Regions from separate parts of the Homo sapiens genome. Here region 2 is linked to region 1. The links come from fine-mapping of genetic effects on gene expression. A gene starts in region 1. The other region holds a variant in brackets. All regions are shown on one strand. Distances are between the middles of the regions.

Evidence for each region. PIP is the estimated chance that this variant, and not a neighbour inherited with it, causes the effect.
Region 2: its variant is the best candidate, but not a certain one, in a credible set for the expression of CLEC17A in whole blood (INTERVAL, PIP 0.72).

What each region holds. Positions count from the first base shown.
Region 1 is chr19:14,580,787-14,585,176 of GRCh38, forward strand. CLEC17A (C-type lectin domain containing 17A) reads left to right here and starts at 2,298. Exons shown (of 14, transcript NM_001204118.2): 1 at 2,298-2,417; 2 at 2,571-2,648. The coding sequence starts at 2,375. It also overlaps the pseudogene RN7SL337P. RefSeq lists a silencer at 1,928-2,071 and an enhancer at 2,413-2,582.
Region 2 is chr19:14,602,482-14,606,871 of GRCh38, forward strand. All of the region lies in intron 12 of CLEC17A (C-type lectin domain containing 17A), which reads left to right. It also overlaps a transcript of ADGRE3 not described here. Among named protein-coding and RNA genes, the nearest start is that of SNORA104, 18 kb to the right of the region's middle. RefSeq lists an enhancer at 1,404-1,653. The variant A/AT (reference allele first, on the strand shown) is at 2,621.

The DNA.
Region 1 (4,390 bases):
CTCTAGAATGGGTACAGTCACATTTGCCCTCCTACAGGTTGGAATGGGTACAGTCACGTTTGCCCTCCTACAGGCTGGGAAGGCTCTATGACATCAGGCCATGTAAGAGGGGAAAGCCCAGCCCCTAGAGTCAGCTTTGAATGGAAAGGGAGGTTAATCTGCTGCTGCCCTCCTACCTCAATTAAGACCGGGGCTACCCCATTGCCCACGTGCGGTGCGGGGGAAGGTTTTTCCATTTGTTAGAGGCTCTCACTTGCTTATACTGAGCCTGTCAGGTAAGAAATACATTCTATTTTGTTTGAGACACTCTTGTTCTGAGTCTCAGTTATGGAAACCCAACCTAATGTTCCCCATGGGCCTGATGAATGTTCCTTGTTGTTGAAGCCAATCTGAGTTGCATTTCCTCTTACTTTTAGTAAAAACCTCTACAAAGGGAAATTGGGGTCTTGCCCCTTGGGGTACATATTAGTTTCCTATAGTGACTCTAACAAATTACTCATAAATTGAGTGACTCGGAACCACAGAAATAATAATTATTATTATTGTTACTATTTTGAGATAGAGTCCTGCTCTTTTGCCCAGGCTGGAATGCAGTGGCGAGATCTTGGCTCACTGCAGCCTCCGCCTCCCGGGTTCAAGCGATTCTTCTGCCGCAGCCACCCGAGTAGCTGGCATTACAGGTGCCCGCTATCATGTCCAGCTATTCTTTTTTTTTTTGTAACTTTAGTAGAGATGGGATTTCATCATGTTGGCCAGGCTGGTCTCGAATGCCTGACCTCAAGTGATCCACCTGTCTGAGCCTCCCGAAGTGTTGGGATTACAGGCGTGAGCCACCGCGCCTGGCCAGAAATGGATTATATGGATTATTTTATTTTATTTTTTTGAGATGGAGTTTCACTCTTGTTGCCCAGGCAGGAGTGCAATGATGTGATCTCGGCTCACTGCAACCTCTACCTCCCGAGTTCAAACGATTCTCCTGCCTCAGCCTCCTGAGTAGCTGGGATTACAGGTGCGCGCCACCATATCTGGCTAATTTTGTATTTTTAGTAGAGATGGGATTTCACCATGTTGGCCAAGCTGGTCTTAAACTCCTGACCTCACGTGATCCACCCACCTCGGCCTCCCAAAGTGTTGGGATTACAGGTGTGAGCCACTGCACCCGGCCAGATTATTTTATAGTTCTGGAGTCAGGAGACCAACATCAGTCTCACTGCTGAAACCCAGGTGTTCATGGGCTGGGCCATGCTTCTTTAAGAGGCTGCAGCGTGAGAATCCATTTTCTTGCTGTTTCCAGCCTCTGCAGTTGCATTCTTTAGCATATGGCTCCTTCTTGCATCTTCAAAGCCAGCATAACTTTAGTGACCACATTGCCTTTTTTTTGTGTCAAATCTCCTTCTGTTTCCCTTCTACGAGGACCCTTGTAATGCCATTTTTTTTTTTTTTTGAGACGGAGTCTCGCTCTGTCACCCAGGCTGGAGTGCAGTGGTGCGATCTCGGCTCACTGCAAGCTCCACCTCCTGGGTTCACGCCATTCTCCTCCCTCAGCCTCCCGAGTAGCTGGGACCACAGGCACCCGCCACCACACCCAGCTAATTTTTTGTATTTTTAGTGGAGACGGAGTTTCACTGTGTAAGCCAGGATGGTCTCGATCTCCTGACCTCGTGATCTGCCTGTCTCGGCCTCCCAAAGTGCTGGGATTACAGGCGTGAGCCACGATGCCTGGCCTGTAAAGCCATTTAAGGCCCACCTAGGTAATCCAGGATAAACCATCCATCTCAAGACCCTTAATTAATTAATTAATATTTAATGTTTTTTAAAAAATTAATTTATTTATTTATTGAGACAGAGTCTCACTCTGTCACTCAGGCTGGAGTGCAGTGGCGTGATCTCGGCTAACTGCAACCTCCATCTCCCAGGTTCAAGCGATTCTCCTGCCTCAGCCTCCTGAGTAGCTGGGATTACAGGCGCCTGCCACTGCGCCTGGCTAATTTTTGTATTTTTAGTAGAGACTGGGTTTCACCATGTTGGCCAACCTGGTCTCGAACTCCTGGCCTTAAGTGATCCATCCACCTCAGCCTCTAAAAGTGCTGGGATTCCAGGCGAGAGCCACCACACCAGGCCAGTTGTCATTATTCCTTCTGTGCGTGAATCCAAACTGGGGAGAAAGGCTCTGTGTGTATGTGTGTGTGTGTGTGTGTGTGTGTTTGTGTGAGCACGTGTGAGGTCTGAGGGCTTCCTGTCAAAATGAATTTGCATGTATTTGACTTTGAAAGGAAAAGGGAACTGAGAGAGCCCCCAGACGCCTGAGTCGGAGAGACAGGGGGCAGAGGTTGCCAAGCCCTGGCTGCCACTTGTCAGGTTCCCTGTGCTAGACATGCATAATCTGTATTCCATCACTGGGTACCCGGACCCACCAGGTAAGGCCCCGGCCAGGCTGGGGCTGGGGCCTAGGTGTGGTCAGGACCCAGGGTACAGAATCCCCACCATGGGGCAGCTGAGGCAGAGACCAGGGCTTGAGGGATGGAGGGAGGAGGGAATGGCTGGGCTCTGACTTGCCTTTCCCCTGGAAGGGACCATGGAGGAGGAGGAGGAGGATGATGACTATGAGAACTCAACACCTCCCTACAAGGACCTTCCTCCCAAGCCAGGTAAGAGGACTTTTTGGAGTGTGACCTGGGGGAATACAGGGAATGGGGTCTCCAGTGGGCATTGGTTGGGCATTGTAGACACATAGTCAGTCTCCTCTGTATCCAGCCCATGCCGGGCACTGTGGAACCCACACCCTGCCCAGGACGACCTGTCAGTCTGATGGCGGAGGTGGGTTTGGGCACAGTCTTGGTGAGCAGGGTGAGAGAGGAGGGGTCAGGAGATTGGCAAAATCCTTGGGGGACTGAGGGCTCAAATAGAGGAAGGGACTTTGGGGTGGGGCTTGAGGGATGAGTAGACATATCTTAAGAAGAGAAGTCCAGGAGAGAACAGTTAGGTGCAAAGTCTCTGAGTTACAAAAGCTGGTGCTTGAGAAACTGGGAGTGGACTGTGGGCTCCCAGTCTCCTCACCTTTCTACCCAAAGCCCAGGTTTTATTTAGACTTGGATCTCAAACCCAAGGCATAGCACAGGGTTCAACAAGAGACTGATAAGTGGTTGTTAAAGTGGAGGTTTGGGCCAGCTGCAGTGGTGTGCGTCTGTAGTCTTGATACTTTGGGAGGTCAAGGTGGGAGGATCGCTTGAGGACAGGAATTTGAGACCAGCCAGGGCAACATAGCAAGACCCTATCTCTGCCAAAAAAAAAAAAAAATAGAGGTTTGGGCCGTGTGTGGTGGCACATGTCTGTAGTCCCAGCTACTTGGGAGGCTGAGTCAGTAGGATCACTTGAGCCCAGGAGTTCTGGGCGATTGTGAACTAGGCGATCGGGCGTCTGCACTAAGTTTGGCATCAATATGGTGATGTTTTGGGAGCAGGGGACCACCAGGTTGCCTAAGGTGTCTGAGGAGGGGTTTCCAGGTTGGAAACGGAGCAGTTCGACACCCCCAAGCTGATCAGTAGTGCGACTGCTCCTGTGAGTAGCCGCTGCACTCCAGCTTGGGCAGCATAGCGCGACTCCACTTCTAAAAAAATAGAGAAAATGAAACCGGAGGTTTTTGAGGTATTCCTGAGTTTACTGCCACCAGGGACCCTGAGGCCATGAGAGATCCCGGAGGCCCAAAACAGAAAATCCCTGAGATATGCTGATGGCCTGGTCCTGGTGACCTTAGACAGGAGCCATTCTGTGAGGGCTGAGGCTGTATATCCCCCATCTCTGAGTCCAAAGTGGGGCCACCTGGGAGGTCCAGAAATATGGTGGGACTTGCCTGAGGTAGGAGGTGACCTGTGCTGTGTTGTTTCACTGCCCCATTTCCAATTTATGGTCCTAATGTGACCCTCAAGCCCTGGGTCTACATATATGACCAACCAATCCCATTCCCTTCTTCAGGGCCACGTCTGCTCCAAAAGCACAGTCCTGTCCCCACATCCACATGCAGCCCAGCATCCACTCTCCAATCCAACTTCATCACCCTCTCTACTATAGCCCAGCCTCGACTCCTTCCCCATTCCCAAACCTGGCAAGGACTCTGTTCTTCATCCTAACCACATCATGACCTTACCCACATCCATCCCTGTCCCCAACCCATTTTCCATCCCATCCCACCCCATCCCAACACCAATTCTAATCCAAACCCCACCTCATCTTCATCCCCATCCTGAAACGCAACTGTTTTTGTTTTTTAAAATCCCCTCCATCCCCTTCCATCCCTTCTCCTTTCAATCAAACCCTCAAAGAGACACACAGAGAAGAGAACTGTGAATTGTCTGCTCATTAGTTTTTATGAGAGGAAACCAGAGAATTTAAA
Region 2 (4,390 bases), 22 kb after region 1:
TGAGGTTTTGCTATGTTGCCCAGGCTGGTCTGGAACTCCTGACCTCAAGTGATCTGCCGCCTTCACCTCCCAAAGTGCTGGGATTACAGGCATGAGCCACTGTACCCAGCCTAATTGGTATTTTTAGACCGTTTACATTTAATATAATTACTGATTGGGTTGGATTTAGGTCTATCATCTTATTATTTTCCTGTATGTCGTGTCCCTTCTGTTTTTTATCCCTCTGTTTCATAGCATTATTTGTATGAGTAGTTAAACAGTTTTTTTTTTTTGAGATGGAGTCTTGCTGTGTTGCCCAGGCTGGAGTGCAGCAGCATGATCTTGGCTCACTGCAACCTCTGCCTCCCGAGTTCAAGTGATTCTCCCGCCTCAACCTCCCGAGTAGCTGGGATTACAGGCGCCCACCACCATGCCTGGCTAATTTTGTACTTTTGGTAGAGATGGGGTTTCTCCATGTTGGCCAGATTGGTCTCGAACTCCTGACCTCAGGTGATCCACCTGCCTTGGCCTCCCAAAGTACTGGGATTACAGGCATAAGCCACCGTGGCTGGCCAAAACAGGGCTTTTGAAGGAGTTAAATTAGGTAATGTAAATGAGGCAGGTGCAAATCATATTCCCTAACTCAGTTTCACAAGAAATACAACTACATTTCCTTTAAATTACTCATTTTAGTTTCTCTCTTGAGTTCTCATTCTGCTAGAATGGTGTACATTTACTCTCAGTCAATTGGGTTCTCCCATTTTACTTCTAAATGGGGACAGCTTTTGTGGGGTCAAGGTGGAAGGGAGCACACATCGGGTCTTTGCTGTCTTTACTCCAAACTGGTATCTACTGGGACATCTACAGACTGAATGATCCTGGGAAGGTTACTTAACCCCTCTGTGCCTCAGTTTTCTCATCTACAAAATGGGCATAATGATAATACTTGCTTCAGTGAGTCATGATAAGGATCCAATGAGACAATCTGTGCAAAGTAGTATAGCTCACTTTTTTTTTGAGATGGGATCTTGCTCTGTTGCCCAGGCTGGAGTGCAGTGGCATGATCTTGGCTCACTGCAGCCTCCATCTCCCAGGTTCAGGCAATCCTCCTGATTTAGCCTCCCAAGTAACTGGGACTATAGTCACGTGCCACCACTCCCAGCTAAGTTTTGTATTTTTTTTTTTAGTAGAGTTAGGGTATCATCATGTTGGCCAGGCTGCTCTCTAGCTAATGATCTCAAGTGATCTGCTCCCCTTGACCTCCCGAAGTGCCGGGATTACAGGAGTGAGCCACCGTGCCCTAACCCATAGCTCACTTCTTAATTCATTAATTCAACCAACATTTCCTGAGCACCTACTATGTGCTGGAGACTATTCTACATATTGGGGATCCAGTGATGACCAAGACATATGAGTTCCCTCTTCTTAAACTGCTCTGATTTTGGTGCCTAGAAATAGCAAGGACTCTCTAAATGTTAAAGAGTCTTCTGGTTTTCTGGGGCTCAGACTTTGGGCCATCTAGGCTGCCCCTGAGGCATCCCACTCTTCCATCAGCAAAGCCTTTTGGGCCTGGAGGTCTTTTCCTGCTGTTCTTGGGCACAAGAGATCTTTCTGCTCCTCCTATCCCATTCTGGGGTCTAAGACACTGTGAGGCCTTCTAAGCCTCCATCTAGTCTGATGGGACAGGAAGACCTTTCCGCTCTCTGATTTTCTGACACCTCCCTGGGGCTTTACCCAGGAAATAGTCCCCAGGTCCCTTCTGCTTTTTAGAGTCTCCAAACCCATCTGGGGTTTTTACCATCACCTGAAAAGCTCACCGGAAATGAGATACCAGATTCTTCTCTCTGGGGCCTGCCATGTCTACACATTTATTATTTCCTTCCCATGGTGACTTTACCTCCCCACATTTTTTTTTCCATCAAAGCAGAAATTTTATTACCCACATTCTTTGACCACAATGCTATAACGACAGAAATATTTTCTTTTACAAAAATTTCAATCACCTTAAGAATGTTTAAAGTCGGCCGGCTGCAGTGGCTCGACTGTAATCCCAGCACTTTGCGAGGCCGAGGTGGGCAGATCACCTGAGGTCAGGAGTTTGAGACCAGCCTGGCCAACATGGTGAAACCCTGTTTCTACTAAAAATACAAAAATGAGCTGGGCATGGTGGCGCGTGGCTGTAATCCCAGCTACTCAGGAGGCTGAGGCAGGAAAATCGCTTGAACCTGCGAGGCGGAGGGTGCAGTGAGCTGGGATCACACCACTGCATTCCAGTCTGGGAGACAAAGCAAGACTCTGACTCAAAAAAAAAATTTTTTTTTTAAAGTCACCAGATAACTTTGGATTAAAGAAGAAATCAAAACTGCAAATAAATAAAAGCAAACATCAATTGGCATTGCCTATAGTAGAACACATGAAATAGATTATAGTAAAAAATTCTTAAAACACAAAGAATTCCAGGATGTGGAAAGCTGGGGCGAGTGTTACTCACACCCAAACAGCAACAATAGCCAGAATAACTACAAAATCATAACTTTTTCTAAACTCATTAGCTAACTGAGATCACCTGGCAGTCAAAAAGTCTAAAATGGGCTGGGCATGGTGGCTCACGCCTGTAATCCCAGCACTTTGACCTCCCCAC[A/AT]TTTTTTTTTTTGAGACGGGATTTCGCTTTTTGTTGCCCAGGCTGGAGTGCACTGTCGCGATCTCAGCTCACTGCAACCTCCACCTCCTGGTTTCAAGCAATTCTCCTCTCTCAGCCTCCCGAGTAGCTGGGAATACAGGCATGACACCACGCCTGGCTAATTTTTGTATTTTTAGTAGAGATGGGGTTTTGCCACGTTGGCCAAGCTGGTCTCGAACTCCTGACCTCAGGTGATCCACCTGTGTTGGCCTCCCAAAGTGCTGGGATTACAGGCATGAGCCACCGCGCCCGGCCACCTCCCCACATTTTAAGGAATCTTGGTTTGGTGGTAAGTTGGGTGAGTTAGATGTGATTTGCATATAGTAAAATGCACAGATCTTTGATGTATGTTCAGTGAACTTTGACAAATGCGTACACCTGTGTAACTGTCAAACTAACCAATATTTATAATCTTTCCACCACCCTAGAAAGTTTTTTCATATCCTTTTTCTAGTTAATCCCTCCCTGCCCCCTACTTGCAACCACCAGTCTAATTTCTTTCACCATCAATTTGTTTGGAGAGGAGTTGCTTCTAACTATATTTTCTTCCCTATCTTTTATCTCTGTCATAAGTCCTTTCTTTTCTTCCAAAGACCTGGGATTTTGACTTTTTTCCGGGACAGAGGCTTGCTCTGCTGCCCAGGCTGGAGTGCAGTGGTGCATTCATAGCTCACTGCAGCCTTGAACTCCTGGGCTTAAGGGATCCTCCCACCTCAGCCTCCTGAGTAGCTGGGACTATAGACACGCACCACCACGTCTGGCTAATTTTTAAAAATTTTTGTAGATATGGGGTCTCAGTATGTTGCCCAGACTAATCTCGAACTCCTAGTCTCAAGCGATCCTCCCTCCTTGGCTAAAGTGGTGGGATTACAGATATGAGGCAGCGTGTCAAAAGCCTGGGCTTTTGAAATACCAAAGCTAGGAAACCTACTTTTCATCTTCCTTCCTTCTTTTCCTGGAACAATGAATTCTTATGTTGTTTGGATGCAGATTAAGGCTACCGAGTAGCACAAAAGTGCAAGAGAAACCAAAAAAAATCAGTTACTATTGCTAAAAATGTCACTTAAATGTTATAATGCTACCTACTAAGACGTCCACAGTATGAGGCTCTGCACAGTGGCTCATGCCTGTAATCCTAGATCTTTGGGAGACTTACAGTGACCTTTGGGACATGCAGTGAGCCATGATCACACCACTGCACTCCAGTCTGGTTGACAGAGTGAGACCCTGTCTCAAAAAAAAAAAAAAAAAAATTAGGCTGGATGTGGTAGCTCATGCCTGTAATTCCAGCACTTTGGGAGGCTGAGGCAGGTGAATCAACTGAGGTCAGAAGTTTGAGATCAGGCTGGTCAACATGGCGAAAGCCCGTTTCTACTAAAAAATACAAAAATTAGCCGGGCGTGGTGGCGGGTAGCTATAATCCCAGCTACTCGGGAGGTTGAGGCGGGAGAATCGCTTGAACCCAGGAGGTGGAAGCTGCAGTGAGCTGAGATCGCACCACAGCACTCCAGCCTGGGTGACAGAGCGAGACTCCCTCTCAAAAAAAAAAAAAAAAAAGTTAATCCTCACAACACTACCAGGAGGTAGCTACTGTGAACCCATTTTACAGGTGAGGAAACTGAGGCACGGAGCAGTTCGCAGATTGCATGAGAAAAAGTAGCACGATTATTCCCACCACACATGCTACAGTGGGAGGAAGACATTGATCCTGTTCTGCATACCATGGGGACG